Regions from separate parts of the Homo sapiens genome. Here regions 2 and 3 are each linked to region 1. Evidence: fine-mapped expression QTL. A gene starts in region 1. Each other region holds a variant in brackets. All regions are shown on one strand. Distances are from middle to middle.

Region 1 (5,233 bases):
CCCCACTCGAATTCAGACTTGCATGGGCCCTGTAACCCCGCTGTTTTGGCCAATTTCTCCCATTTGAAATGGCTGTATTTACCCAATACCTGTACCCTCATTGTATCTAAGAAGTAACTAGCTTACTTTTGATTTTACAGGCTCTTAGGTAGAAGGGACTTGCCTTGTCTCAGATGAGACTTTGGACTGTGGACTTTTGGGTTAATGCTGAAATGAGTTAAGGCTTTGGGGGACTGTTGGGAAAACATGATTGGTTCTGAAATGTGAGGGCATGAAATTTGGAGGGACTGGGGCAGAATGATATAGTTTGGCTGTGATCCCATTCAAATCTCAACATCAAATTGTATCTCTCAGAATTCCCATGTGTTTTGGGAAGAACCCAGAGGGAGGTAATTGAATCATGGGGGCCGGTCTTTCCTGTGCTATTCTCGTGATAGTGAATTAATTCTCATGAAACCTAATGGGTTTATTGGGGGTTTCTGCTTTTACTTCTTCCTCATTTTCTCTTGCCACCTCCATGTAAGAAGTGCCTTTCACCTCCTGCCATGATTCTGAGGCCTCCCCAGCCATGTGGAACTGTAACTCCAATTAAACCCCTTTTTCTTTCCAGTCTGGGATATGTCTTTATCTGCAGTGTGAAAACGGACTAATACAGTGACCCTACTTTGTTTTATCTCTCTGAGCTTCCAGTATCTAATTTCTTTAAAAAATTGATATGACTACAGGGTTTTGTGAGAATTTAAGGGTAAAAATATCTTTGGTGTGGGGGGTGGGGGGTGGCTAGAGCATTGTGTTTTGAAATTTAGCTCTCATTTTTATTTTATATGAAGCACCATCACTCAGATTTATTTCTTAATCCAGTTCTCCACCTCCTTCATTGAGATAATATAATAGAGGGTTGTAAGGGGGCCCTGAATGGGAGAAAGGATATATGGATGCAGAAGGAGATGCCACAAGATAAAAGCTGAGAGAGCTACTTCAATAAAAACTCTGTGAACTCTCCCCTCCCACCGTCTCTTGATAATAGCCTAACACTATTTGACAAAAGGTAAAGAAAGGCATTCTCTTTATTCTGCAACATGACCTTTGGGGGGTTTCTGTGCATCATCAGGGCAGGGTCAAGCAGCATCCAACCATCCACAGGTGAAAAGGCATGGGGCCGGGGGGAGGCGGGAGTGCTTCTGAAGGCGCGGGTGGGTGGGTTTGTGGGGCTGGAAAAGAGGAATGAAACCAGATGCCACAATGCAACTGCTCTCTCTGGTCCCTGAGCCCTCCTGAGACACTCCCAGGGGTTGCTACGAAACATGATCAAGAGCTGTGGGTTCAGCAATTGACAGAAATGTATCAAATCACTAAGCATTTCTTGCTTGCCTGTTACACATTGGGCATGGTGTTAGCAATGGTGACACAAAGATGATAAAGACGTCGCTGATCTCAAGTCCTTGTCTGGTTCAACCACGTGCCAAGACATTTTAATACTCTGTTGGGAATTCTCAGGCAGCACAGGCCCAGGCGTTAGCAAAGCAGCCAGGGATTTCAGACAGAGGGTGCCATCCAGGGTAAGAAAATGAACTTTTTGTGTCACATTTGCATTTTCATTCCTTAACTAAGAGTATCTGAAAATACTGATGGCACAAACGAACTAAATTCCTGCTTCAGCACCAAATGGATGAACTACTACGGTTTAAGCATTGAACTAGTCCTAATATCACCATTCCAGAAATGTCTTAGTATTAATCAGGACAAGAAATAGGGATCTCTTTCGCAAGAAGCGAGACTGCACTCCTTCCTTTCCTTGTATACGGAAAGGGGACAAAATCCACAGTGAAAGGCCTAGAAGCGGCGCACTCCGCCCACGGGCGGCCCACGTGTCCACCTATTCCGCACCGCGCCCTGTCCCATCCCTATGGAGCGGGGTCTGCCAACGCTCGCGAGAGCCCTCTCGGCTTCCACGTTTGCCACGTTCCAAAGGACCGAGACAAACTGGAAAGCCGAAAGAGGCTCGCGCTCACAGGCAGCTGCGTAGCGCCCGAACAGCCCTAAGTGAGCAGGGGCGGGGAGCGCGGCAGGGTACCGCCGCCTCGTAAGGGCCCTTGCGATTGGGTCCCAGGCGCCGTCACTCAGCCTTCCGGGGGCGGGGCGAGGCCGGGAAGGGGCGTGGCCGTCGGGCGGCGAGCCGCGCGCTCTCGCCCCGGGAGGGAGTCACAGGTTCGTACACGCGAGGCCGGGCGCGCGCAGCCGGCAGGCGGGTGAAGTCTTCCCAGGTGCTGCAGGCGGTGCTGAGGCACAGGGTCTGCTGCAGGAGCAGCGGCCCGAACCCGCTCCAGCGGCCCGCCGCCGCCAGCGGTTCCCGCGTCGCGTGTGTACCCCCGCGCACTGAAGGAGGTCCGCCAGCCCTCACCAGCCCCCGCGGACCGTGCAATGGCCCAGCGTAAGAATGCCAAGAGCAGCGGCAACAGCAGCAGCAGCGGCTCCGGCAGCGGTAGCACGAGTGCGGGCAGCAGCAGCCCCGGGGCCCGGAGAGGTCAGAGGCCCTGCGGGGCGGGGATCTGGGGCCTCGCCTCGGGGTAGGGAGCCGGCTGGCGCGGCGGACGCTGCGGGTGCATCTCCCCAGGTCCCACCGCGCGCCGCCTCCATCCCCCGCGACGCTCCTCCTTTAGGCGCGCGGGGCGGAGGCCGCATTCGGCGGGCCTGGCGGGCGGGCGAGGGGCCAGGCGGACCGGGGTCCGAGCCCTCGGGATGCTAGTCTCGGGGAGCCCCTTCCCAGCGGTTCCTTCACCTGCAGGGCGCAGCCGAGACAGAGGTTGCTGAACGACTGTTTCTTGGCTTTCCGTGGAATTGAACATGGGAGTAAGAGAACAATTTATCGTTTGCCTTGCGTGTTTTGGGGAGTTGAAAATGAGCCAAAGTCAGGGAAAGTGAGTTCCTGCCTAACCAGCAGCGTTTCAGAGCAACTCAAAGGAGGTGAAAATGGGGGCGCCGGGGGGCAGGGGGAGGGAAGAAGTTGGGAGTGATTTGAATGCTCTCAGAAATTATTTTAAATATTTTTGCTTGTATGTAGCTTTCTTAATATGCGTTGCAGTTGCCTTTAAAATAGAATGTCATGAAATACTGAACGAGCGTCTGTATTTTTACCACTTTTACTTAAAATAAAAATCGATTGGATATTCACCTTTCTCCTCGTCCGTGTGCATATCCAGCAGAGAGAACAGATTTTTAAATCTGTTTCGTCTCATATTTCAGTGATTCTTGGTTTCTTTTATACTTCCTTTGACTCATATTTGGGATATTGAAACTGCAATACACATGTGTATGGAATGTGAGCTGTAAACTTCACTTGAAGTGATTTAGACTCTTTGTTTTCTGAGATCTTCAGATCATGCATTCATAATATACCAAGAAAATGAATCAGCTATAGTCAAAGAAGTATTTTCTTTATAGCACTTGTCACTATCTGAACTTGTCTTATTACTTTCATGTGTGTTGTCTTTGGCTCATTCTCTCTGTATCCCCAGCTCCTAGAATGTTCCTTTCCCATAATAGGTGCTCAATAAATATTTGAGTAGTGAATGAATGAATGGATTTAAATGGGGAAAGTAGTGCATTAAATCCATTGCACAAATTTACATTCTAAGGACTAATATTTGTATTCTAAAAGTAAAGATGTAGACACAGTTTGAAGTTCAATGCAAGCATATTAATTCACCTTTGACATAAGTGAAAGTTTGTGTTCCTTTTTCACTTGTTCTTAAATGTCACTTACTTAAACCTGCAGAGGGATAGATTAATTGCCTCAGCCGACTGAGGCTACTCTTTTTTAACATCCCTAAATGAGAATGGGTTCTTCTCATTGTGCCTCTAAGGGCACTAAGCAGAGAAAGCTGATGAACAACTTTAATGTTAGTTGTTTTCAAAAGGTTTCTGTAGCTATTTGCCAGAGAAGCATGTCTTCGTTCCATTTCATTTTTGTGTTTATGAGGAGAGGGCTGATTGCATCTGAGGGAAGTCACTTTATATGGCCTCTTATTGGTGAGAACTAATACTGGGAAATGTGTCTCACGTTTCTAGACCTACCCCATAACTATTTGAAGCATTTTAACAGGCAAGAGATAGGTTTAGAAAATGCAGTAACTTAAATTAACTTCTCCTGACTTTCATAGTCAGGCATTTTAGAACAAACTCTGCCCATATTTGAGGATCTACAGCCTTTTAAGCATTTTACACGTTGATTCTCTAATAGTCATGAAACAGACATAGTATGTAAAAGAATATGTAAAAGGGAGGAATGCCCGTGATACGAAAACAAAAGTTGATATTGGAACCCTGCATGTGACGTAATGAGTATTCTTTATCCGCATATCCGCAACCTTTTCTTTTTTTTCTCCAGTAGATACTGAGTTCTTACTGTGTGCCAGATAGAAGGCACTGGGTATGGAAACCATTTCCTTCCATCACCCTAAACAGTTAAAGTACAGTGTCGTGTATAGTAGGCTGTACTCGAAAGATAAAGCCGGCTTTTCTTTTAATGCTGTTTACCTGGTCATTAAAGTACGGACGTTGTGCGAACCATTTCCTTCTACTGGGAAAATCAAAGACTTTTTAGCAGTGTCATACTGTGAGACCCATTTAGTTTCCTGCTCAAATCATACAGATGAGGAAATTAATGCCCAGAGAAGTTGCCGAGTTCATTGAAGGTTGTTTAGTTCATGGAAACTCAACTAATTACTGGAAGAACCGAGACTAAGAACCCAGGTTTTGTTATTCATTTTGCCATGCTTGAATTTTAGGTTCTCTAGTATGTAATTGGAGTTGAACTAGATTATCAAGTTTTCTTCTGGCTGTCTCCATGAGTACTACATTTAATTATTGGAGAAAACTATGCTTTTGTCCTATCACCAATTACATTTCCCTTGACAAAAATTCTATTTGAAACACTATTTGAAATTTTAGTTTGAGAAGAAGTATATGTGTTCAAATAGTACGTTTTTTGATATGTCTTACATTGAGAGTCAGAAAATGACGGCATTGGTCACATTAAACATTATTATTTCTTAAGTTGTTGTGTAAACGTATGGGGAAAAAAGAACCCAGTCATTTGAAACATGCATTTTAGGGAAAAGGTGATTTCTTTTTTTTTTCCTGGCCAAACTTTATCTTGGTGGTTTTTTTGCTGAAAAGTGATGTTTGGAAGCTGGAATTTGGGGAATTTATATCACAGATTTTTAAAGCAAGT
Region 2 (5,233 bases), 240 kb after region 1:
TAGAAAATCTAGAAGAAATGGATAAATTTCTGGACACATACACCCTCCCAAGACTAAACCAGGAAGAAGTTGAATCTCTGTATAGACCAATAACAGGCTCTGAATTGAGGCAATAATTAATAGCATAGCAACCAAAAGAAGTCCAGGACCAGATGGATTCACAGGTCAATTCTACCAGAGGTACAAGGAGGAGCTGGTACCATTCCTTCTGAAACTATTCCAATCAATAGGAAAAGAAGGAATCCTCCCTAACTCATTTTATGAAGCCAACATCATCCTGATACCAAAGCCTGGCAGAGACACAACAAAAAAAAAGAGAATTTTAGACCAATATCCTTGATGAACATCGTTGCAAAAGTCCTCAATAAAATACTGGAAAACCGAATCCAGCAGCACATCAAAAAGCTTATCCACCATGATCAAGTGTGCTTCATCCGTGGGATGCAAGGCTGGTTCAACATACAAAAATCAATAAACGTAATCCATCATATAAACAGAACCAAAGACAAAAACCACATGATTATCTCAATAGATGCAGAAAAGGCCTTTGATAAAATTCAACAACCTTCATGCTAGAAACTCTCAATAAATTAGGTATTGATGGGATGTATCTCAAAATAATAAGAGCTATCTATGACACACCCACAGCCAATATCATACTCAATGGACAAAAACTGGAAGCATTCCCTTTGAAAACTGGCACAAGACAGGGATGCCGTCTCCCACCACTCCTATTCAACATAGTGTTGGAGGTTCTGGCCAGGGCAATCAGGCAGGAGAAGAAAATAAAGGGTATTCAATTAGGAAAAGAAGAAGTCAAATTGTCCCTGTTTGAAGATGACATGATTGTATATCTAGAAAACCCCATCGTCTCAGCCCAAAATCTCCTTAAGTTGATAAGCAACTTCAGCAAAGTCTCAGGATACAAAGTCAATGTGCAAAAATCACAAGCATTCTTATATACCAATAATAGACAAACAGAGAGCCAAATCATGAGTGAACTCCCATTCACAATTGCTTCAAAGAGAATAAAATACCTAGGAATCCAACTTACAAGGGATGTGAAGGACTTATTCAAGGAGAACTACAAACCACTGCTCAATGAAATAAAAGAGGATACAAACAAATGGAAGAACATTCCATGCTCATGGGTAGGAAGAATCAATATCATGAAAATGGCCATACTGCCCAAGGTAATTTACAGATTCAACGCCATCCCCATCAAGCTACCAATGACTTTCTTCACAGAATTGGAAAAAACTACTTTAAAGTTCATATGGAACCCAAAAAGAGCCCACATTGCCAAGTCAATCCTAAGCCAAAAGAACAAAGTTGGAGGCATCACGCTACCTGACTTCAAACTATGCTACAAGGCTACAGTAACCAAATCAGCATGGTCCTGGTACCAAAACAGAGATATAGATCAATGGAACAGAACAGAGCCCTCAGAAATAATGTCACATATCTACAACTATCTGATCTTTGACAAACCTGAGAAAAACAAGCAATGGGGAAAAGATTCCCTATTTAATAAATGGTGCTGGGAAAACTGGCTAGCCATATGTAGAAAGCTGAAACTGGATCCCTTCCTTACACCTTATACAAAAATTAATTCAAGATGGATTAAAGACTTAAATGGTAGACCTAAAACCATAAAAACCCTAGAAGAAAACCTAGGCAATACTATTCAGGACATACACATGGGCAAGGACTTCTTGACTAAAACACCAAAAGCAATGGCAACAAAAGACAAAATTGACAAATGGTATCTAATTAAACTAAAGAGCTTCTGCACAGCAAAAGAAACTACCATCAGAGTGAACAGGCAACCTACAGAATGGGAGAAAAGTTTTGCAACCTACTCATCTGACAAAGGGCTAATATCCAGAATCTACAATGAACTCAAACAAATTTACAAGAAAAAAACAAACAACCCCATCAAAAAGTGGACAAAGGATATGAACAGACACTTCTCAAAAGAAGACATTTATGCAGCCAAAAAACACATGAAAAAATGCTCATCATCACTGACTGTCAGAGAAATGTAAATCAAAACCACAATGAGATACCATCTCACACCAGTTAGAATGGCGATCATTAAAAAGTCAGGAAACAACAGGTGCTGGAGAGGGTGTGGAGAAATAGGAAGACTTTTACACTGTTGGTGGGACTCTAAACTAGTTCAACCATTGTGGAAGCTGGTGTGGCGATTCCTCAGGGATCTAGAACTAGAAATACCATTTGACCCAGCCATCCCATTACTGGGTATATACCCAAAGTATATAAATCATGCTGCTATAAAGACACATGCACACGCATGTTTATTGCGGCACTATTCACAATAGCAAAGACTTGGAACCAACCCAAATGTCCAGCAATGATAGACTGGATTAAGAAAATGTGGCACATATACACCATGGAATACTATGCAGCCATAAAAAATGATGAGTTCATGTCCTTTGTAGGGACATGGATGAAGCTGGAAACCATCATTCTCAGCAAAGTATCACAAGGACAAAAAACCAAACCC[T/C]GCATGTTCTCACTCATAGGTGGGAATTGAACAATGAGAACACATGGACACAGGAAGGGGAACATCACACACTGGGGCCTGTTGTGGGGTGAGGGCAGTGGGGAGGGATAGCATTAGGAGATATACCTAATGCTAAATGACGAGTTAACGGGTGCAGCACACCAACATGGCACATGTATACATATGTAACAAACCTGCACGTTGTGCATATGTACAATAAAACTTAAAGTATATATATAAAAAAAAAGACTTGCCCTGCTTCACTGGGAAAATAGAGTCCTCGGGAACTTCTCAGCTTTGGGGTGCCACATGCACAGGTGCCTGATTACTGTAAAGAGAGCTTCTTGCTCTTAGAAAAGCAACAACTTCCTCCACTCAGGCTCGGGGTCCTAACCAATCTCACCTGCTTGGTGTTATCAATTGTTCCCTCTCCTACACCTTCCAATTCTCCCTCTTTACTGGATCTTTGCTATTAGCATTGAGATATCCTAGTGTTCCCATTTTCAACAAAAGAAGAAGAAGATGAAGAGGAAGACAAAGTCAGAAAATAGAAGAAAATAGAAAAACAACAAAAAAGCCTTCTGGATCTTTACATGCCTCTCCAGATACAAATATCTTCCCCATCTCTCCCTCTGCTCACATCCTACCTACTTCTGAGCCCGCTGCATCTTCATAACCACCCATGTGACTCCACCACAGCTCTTGTGAAGGCTTCCTATGACTTTCAAGTCATTATGTCCAATGGATACCTTTAAATCTTCACCTTACTTGGCTTCTCAGAAGCAGTAAATAGAGTTGATGACTCCACCCTTCCTGAAATCCTTTCTGTTCCTTTGGCTTCTGCAACACCACATCTAGTTTACCTCCTACCATTCTCCATGTTGGAGAATGGTGTCTTGCGCTGTATGACATTCAAATACTGAACTTCCTCTCAGCTCAAACCTAGGCACTCATTCTTCTTTTCTTTCTACAAGCTCTCTCTGAGAGTTCTCCTCCATTCCCATGGCTTGCATTTGCCTCTTTATGCCTTTGAGTTCCTGATTTTTCCCACTCCAGAATTTTCTCCTGAGCTTTAGAACAGGAGAAACATGTTCTAAACAGCCTACATGACTACTCTAACCAGATACCACACAAGCCCTCTCATTAATCATGTCCAACACTGAATTCACAATCATCTCCCCAGTCAGCACTGCTTCCAGAGTTCCTTATCTTGGGAAAAGGGTCTGCTTTCCATTCAGCAGCATTGCATCTTTTACATATGCAAAAGACCTCTGGTCATTCCTGAAGCATCTTACCTTCATCCCAATATCCACTTGATCATCAGATCTTGTTTATTCTATTCACTAAACATTTTTGAGTCATCTTCTTCTCTGTACCTCCACGCTCAGCACTCCAATCCAGGCTACAATGATCTCCTACATGCACCATTACTGTAGTCTCATACAGCCTTCTTTTACTACTCTCTCCACCTCCAATTTGTTCTCCTCACAACAGAGTGAAAATTTTAATAAACTTATCTATTCATTGCACTCATTTGCAAAAACTTTTCTGAAACTGTCCATTGCTTATAGGACAAAGTCCGATATTCATATCTGCCCTATGCAGCTCTGCACGGTGGGCCCCTGTGCATCACCCCCGTCATTTTCCCCCTCGCTTTCTGCTCTCCAATGTTTCTGGTCTTTTTTTTTTTTTTTTTTTTTTTAAATTCCGTGAATTTCAGATGTCATCAATTGTAGGACATGTCTTCATTTCAGGGATTTTTAATGTGATGGAAAATGCATCTTATAATTAATCAGTAAAACACAGTAGTTCCTGACACTGGTCCTTCCAAATGCAGGGTGTTTGCTCTGAATCCCACCCCCATGCCTCCCTTTTTGCTTGGGGTACTTTTCTCATATTCCAGTTTTCAGCTTATATGTGACTTCCTCAGGAAAGTGCTTCCAGAATTCCACCCAAGACTAGGTTAGGATCCTCCTCGTTACACACCTGTATCCTCATGGTACACTTTAACTTTTCAAAGCACTTATGGTGACCATGAAACAGCTGTTTGTATGGGTAATGTGTTTAAAGTCTGTCCCCCTTCATAGACCACAGACTCAGAGACACTGCAGGGGCAGTGTCCGCCAGGTTAACCACTCTGTCTTCAGCAGATAACACCTGCACTGACTTCCTTTAATCCTCACAGCACAATAATAAGGTAGATCTATTATTATCTCCTTTCTAGAGAGGAAAAGTAGGCCACAGAGAGGTAGCTACTCAGGTCACACAGCTATTAATTTGAACGCATAAAATCTGATTACTGATTCTGTTCTCTTAATTGCCCTCTATCCTACTTGTGTATAATGTATACTCAATGATTATTGAATGAATGAATAAAATTTTTAAAAATTATTTTAAATGTTAATTGTTAATGGAAATTCAAAAACTGGGAGAAGTAATGAGACTAAGGAGTTGGTTACTGATAACCTTAGAGACAATTTCAAATTCTAATGAAACATTGATTACAAAGACCATGTCTTATTCCTTTATGGATGGTTGATGATATCTTCCTCATCACTCTACAAAATAGAGTGTTCCTCACAGCATTTACTGTTACACGATTTTTCCTTTCTTCTCTCCTTCTTTTGTTGTTTCCTTCCTCTCTCTTTTTTGTTTCCCTCCTTCTCCTCCCCCCATGTCTTTTTTACCTTCTTTCCTTCCCTC
Region 3 (5,233 bases), 50 kb before region 1:
AATCTCAATGTATCTATATTATAGCTGATCACCACTAAATTTTCAGACATCTAAAAAAACCTACTTCCTTCCTATATTACTTGACCACAAACAGTGTAATAAGCCTGATTTAAAGGCCCTTTCCCTCTAAAAGTATTATTTTCAATGTTCACCAAGACTGAGTTTTATGAGTAAAATTTTCTCCCCTCCAATGTCAAAGGAACTCAGTGGTAAGAGTATAAAGTGACTAAACAGTTTTAGCCCTATCCTTCTTATGAAATAGCTTTGTGACCTTAGGCTAATCACGTCACCTCTCTGAGCTTCCAAGTTCTAATTTTCTAACAATGAAGTGCCAGGGAGATGAGAATAAACAACTTCAACGGCCTTTCCATGCCCAAAGACACTGCAGCAGAGCCGTCTATGAATGACAGATGAAATGCCTTAGAGGTTGTTACAGACTGAATGTTTGTATTAGACAAAAATGTATATGCTGAAATCTTAACCCCCAATGTGGGGGCATTAGGAGGGGAGGCCATTAGGAGATTATTACGTCATCTTTGGTATTAGAAACCCGTAACATCATTTTCTTTAGGTCTCTTATATTCACAGAGTGTCCTCAATTTTGTCTTTCATTATCTTATTCATTATTTATTCACTTTTAAAAGTAATATAAAGATATTCTTGTATTTATGCATTTAAACATACATGAATATATAACTAAGCAAACAGATAATAAAATTATTAAGTTTAGCTCTAAAATGCAGTTAACTGTCAGCATGCTAAATTTTAAAATATATAGTATTTGCCTAATGGGATTTTCCATTTTAATAAATTATAATAATTCCTTTAAGAAGAAAACAGACAAAATATATTATCATCTTGTATACTCATTTGTCTTACTCTGTAATTATAGTACTTAGTGTCATCTCAAACATTTATATTAATTACCACCTTTAACTAATCAACTTTTGTTTTCCTGGCCACAAGGAAACTAGAAGCAATATCTACTTAGATTTTTTCCATGAGTACACATTTTATACTGCATTTTAATAAACTTGAGATAAACACATTCAGATATATATATAATTCAAAGGCATTCAAATGCCCTATTAGTCTGTAGTATTTTGTAAAGATTGGAAATGAGTAAAACCCAAAATAATGTTTCTTGAATGATATTTAAACATTTTATTTTTATTTAGAAATAGTTGTGGTATACATATACCTTTTATTAATTAGCTTAATTTTATATTAGTCTAAGGTCTTAAAGCTAACCAAAGATCCAGAAATTACAAAGTTTACCAACACATTAAGCCCTTATGATCTGTTAAATAAGTATTCACAATATTAAATATCTAAAAGACACTCACATTTACAATTTTATTGGACTAAATACAATTTTATATTTCTTAACTTTATATAAGTTGCAGATATAATAACACATTATTGGGGCCATAGAACTAACATAGAATATTTTCAAATTTTAATCATGAGAAATTATATTCAAATCTTGTCTTAACTAAATACTAGGTGAACGTTTTTTACATAGTAATAAGATCAGAGAAAAACATGTAGAGCCTTTGTAAGCTAAAATTTAATTACTCATATTTGGTAAAATAGTTCTTTTCTTAGTAGAAGTAAACCTCTATGAGATATATCAATAATTTATAATCTATCAATCTCCAAAGTTTTCTGAGAGAAGTTAAAAACGGAAGGAAAGAAAAGAAGAAATGAGAGGGAACTGGCTTCTAATATAAAATCATCTCTGTAAAAAGGCTACTTACCCTTCTTTCTGCAAGGAAAGGAAAAGCCTAGACACAAGAAAAACCATTTCTCTCTCATGTACACATCCACATGTACTCACACTCATACATACTTGCACACATACACTCTTACACACACATGCACATGCACATACATATTCACATACATAAAAACAGTCACACATGTGCACAGTACAAGAAGAAAAGAAGGGGTCTCCTATTTCAAGGTCATCTCTCTCTTAGACAAGGCAGAATCACCTCCTGAAGGTTTCTTTTCTTTTTTGTTCTAATGTGTATCTCTAATAGACAATCATGTTTATGTTACAATTTTCTCAAAGTGATCATTGCAATTTCAGTTTGACCATGGTGGAGTCATGACAGAGACATGCACTTAAATGAAAGCTTTAAGGGAGCAGG[T/C]GTTTGTCCCAGAGGGCCAAACACATTGAGTAGAGCCCATGAGAACTACAGCAGACAGTAAGAATGGGTCTTGTACCACTTCTTATCTCTAGCATATGGCCACAGAGCAGTCATCACTGATAAGAGGCCCAAGGAAACCCCCAACAGTGGGCAGAAGAAACTAAATAAAATATTTCTCAGGGATGCAAAGACAAGACAATGGAAATTTCTTACAAGTTTTTGAACAGTATCCCAAGCCAAAGTTTGTCAAAAAATTATCAGTCTCATGAGACTGAACTCGTCAGTCTTGGAGTGGTCTGAAAGACGGACTTCGAGAGCCCGTGTGGTCCCTCTCTCTAGACTTCCTCCTGCAGACTCACAGGAGAAAGGGAGGAGTGTGGACAGCAGGAAACAGGGAGGAAGTGTTGGTATTTAGGCAGGTTTTCACCATGAATAATAATTTTCAAATTTAATTATCTAAAGGAAGGATACTTAAAATGATTCCTCATTCCTAGGAGAAAAAATGAATTTATTTGAAAATCAACTCAAGCAAGAGCAAATAAGAAATCAGGAGATCAGACATAATCAGGGCCCTACCTATCTTACGGTTGGAGAGATTTCTGAGTGGAAGGCTCAGAGGCCCCAAGGTAGCACCCTCTCCTGAGTGAGGAGTCTTGAGCCTCAGCAGCAAGGGGGAATTTAGTGAATCTCAGTGGTAGTTTAAGTATTGTTGAGTACTGACTTCCCAAAATATCACCAGAAAAATCTGCTGCTCAAACAAAGCTAAGTTGGTTAGGCTTGCTGCAGTAAGGGAAAAGACTTCTTTGACAGCTTTAGTAGTGAATCAGAAGGGAGAAGTCAGGGGAGAATATTAATAGCATTTGGAGGGCAACTCTGAGTTGGATGATTTTCTGCAAAGCAAGACTCTAGTTGGGATTGGGAAATGTATGTCATAATATTTTTGAATGGGTAGCTGTAGTGAGGAGAGGGTCCTTAAAGGCTATTGATGAATAAGGAGTTTGAATCGGTTCACTGTCTTGTCTTTCAGGAGCCTTATTTCCAGGAGTAAGTAGCTACGTTGTTTTTGCCTGATCACAGTATTATTTAGCACATGAATGAAAACTTCATTAGTTTTGGTTTTCATAACATACAATGATATAGAGGTCACAAGTATGGGCTTTGGCGGTGTACAGCCGTTTTCAAATCCCAGCTCCTTAGTTTACTAGCTGTGTGCCTGGAGCCACTGAATCACCTATACTTAGTCTCAGTTCTTTCATCTGCCTAATTATGTCATGTATTTGTTGACCTATTTCTGACACTGTTTTCATCATAACATATGTATTGACAGTTTCAAACACTGTTTGCAATATTTTATTTAATCCTTTACAATAGCCCAATGAAAAAATACACTCAAGCCCTTTTGCTAGATGAGGAAACAAAAACAGAGAAACATAGAGGCTAAATAAATTTCCCATCAGGAGACAAGTAAGTGGGCAAGCCATGACTTGGCCCCTGGTAAACTCTGGAGATGTCACAGTGAATTGCTATGCTATATGGCCTCCTTCAGGCTCATTGGGAGGGTTGAATGAGAAATTCAATATGCAGCAGGTCTTGGAACAGTGCCATTTGTTCAACGTGGTTTTGTTATATGACTGGGCCCTGCAATAGGATGGCCTCCTGGCCAGGGTTAGGTCCCTCTTTGCACTCTGAGCTGTCAGAATAGGCTCTGGCCACCCGTGACCCTGAACTGCAATAATTGGGTAATTATCTTCCTTGTTTTTATTAACGTTTCTTAAATGTATGTATAGCTCACATTTATTTTAGCTTTAGTATTAGAAGTGTTTAGGGGGTCTTTATTTTGAAGATTGGTGAGGTCTTCGTGATGTTATAGAAACTTAACTCTTGTTTATATCAATTAGCCTGTGGGAAAATTGGTTTCATTATATGTCATGTTGCTTATAGCCAAAGTTTCCAAGAAACTATCTAGGACATTAAATGAGAACTTAACTGTGTAACACTTAGTCCCTGGCACATGATAAAGGGTCAATGTTAGCTGCTACTATTAAACTATTGAAATGAAAATTCAGTAATAGTGTAAAGTCAAGAAAAGAACAGGATGCAGAGAATGCTTATTTTCTGACTTAGAGATTTCTGAAGGTGCAAAGTGTAAAAGTCATGACTATTCTGTAAAAATAGAAGAAAAACTTTCCCCATAAAGTAAAAACTGGTAGCATCCAATATATTACAGTCCTTCTCATTGTACCAAGTGGTCAGAGATTACAAGGCTTACAGAAACTTTGTATTATGCACCCTCTTGCTGCCTCCACTGGTGAGACAGTCAAGTGTTAGTCTTCCAAGTTGAAATGGAAAATAGATCGTCTCCATGGAATATATCAGTATTTTCTCTTCATGTTAAGTCTTAGTTCCAAACCACCTCCCCGGACAGTCGGAAATCCCACTGGCTGGAGGAATAAATAAATTCCTTATCTTGTCAAGGAAGCTCCTCCCAAGCTACAAAAGTTGCAGACAGCAAAGGGATCAAGTGACCCCAGAGATGAAATCTGTGACTCTCTGGTGGAGCAACATGATAGTAATAAACAAAGGTTGAGTGCCTGCTGTATAAAGCAACCTCTGGAGTGCCTGATATCTACTAACTCTTTTAGCACCCACTCGACCCTGTGAGATGCGTATTACTTTATTGTATCTACCACTGTAAAAAAGAATGAACCAAGCTACAGCAATATTATGTTGCTTGCCCTGAGTCACACAGCTGAGTAAGTCACAGGAGTTTGTGCTCATAATGACTTTGCTATGCTGATGTTTGAACCTGGAACCATTCAGCAACCCTCCAGCTAATATGGCTCCATGCTCTACTTCTGGAAAAGCTGAGTTCCTGCAGCCTTGTCCTACATCACCCAAAAGAGCTGGAAAAGAATGCAGTGAGTTCCATTCTATTTGTTCCGAGAATAGGAAAGCCACATTGAAGCAATATCTTAAAGAGAAATCTATAGTTAGGAGTGATGAAGATTTGAAACAGATGTCAGCAGAAAGAAAAAGGGAGAGGCACCATGATAATTATACTCAGTGATGCTTTTTAA

The links. PIP is the estimated chance that this variant, and not a neighbour inherited with it, causes the effect.
Region 2: its variant is the best candidate, but not a certain one, in a credible set for the expression of ASPH in whole blood (INTERVAL, PIP 0.69).
Region 3: its variant is the best candidate, but not a certain one, in a credible set for the expression of ASPH in whole blood (GTEx, PIP 0.70).

Annotation. Positions count from the first base shown.
Region 1 is chr8:61,711,560-61,716,792 of GRCh38, reverse strand. It overlaps ASPH (aspartate beta-hydroxylase), which reads left to right and starts at 2,201. Exons shown (of 25, transcript NM_004318.4): 1 at 2,201-2,524. The coding sequence starts at 2,422. MIR4470 (microRNA 4470) reads right to left here and starts at 2,005; the gene lies at 1,934-2,005. RefSeq lists silencers at 1,992-2,361, 2,402-2,831.
Region 2 is chr8:61,472,341-61,477,573 of GRCh38, reverse strand. The region is part of intron 5 of CLVS1 (clavesin 1); the gene reads right to left. Among named protein-coding and RNA genes, the nearest start is that of CLVS1, 190 kb to the right of the region's middle. The variant T/C (reference allele first, on the strand shown) is at 2,531.
Region 3 is chr8:61,761,084-61,766,316 of GRCh38, reverse strand. No RefSeq gene overlaps it. Among named protein-coding and RNA genes, the nearest start is that of LINC02842, 21 kb to the left of the region's middle. The variant T/C (reference allele first, on the strand shown) is at 2,157.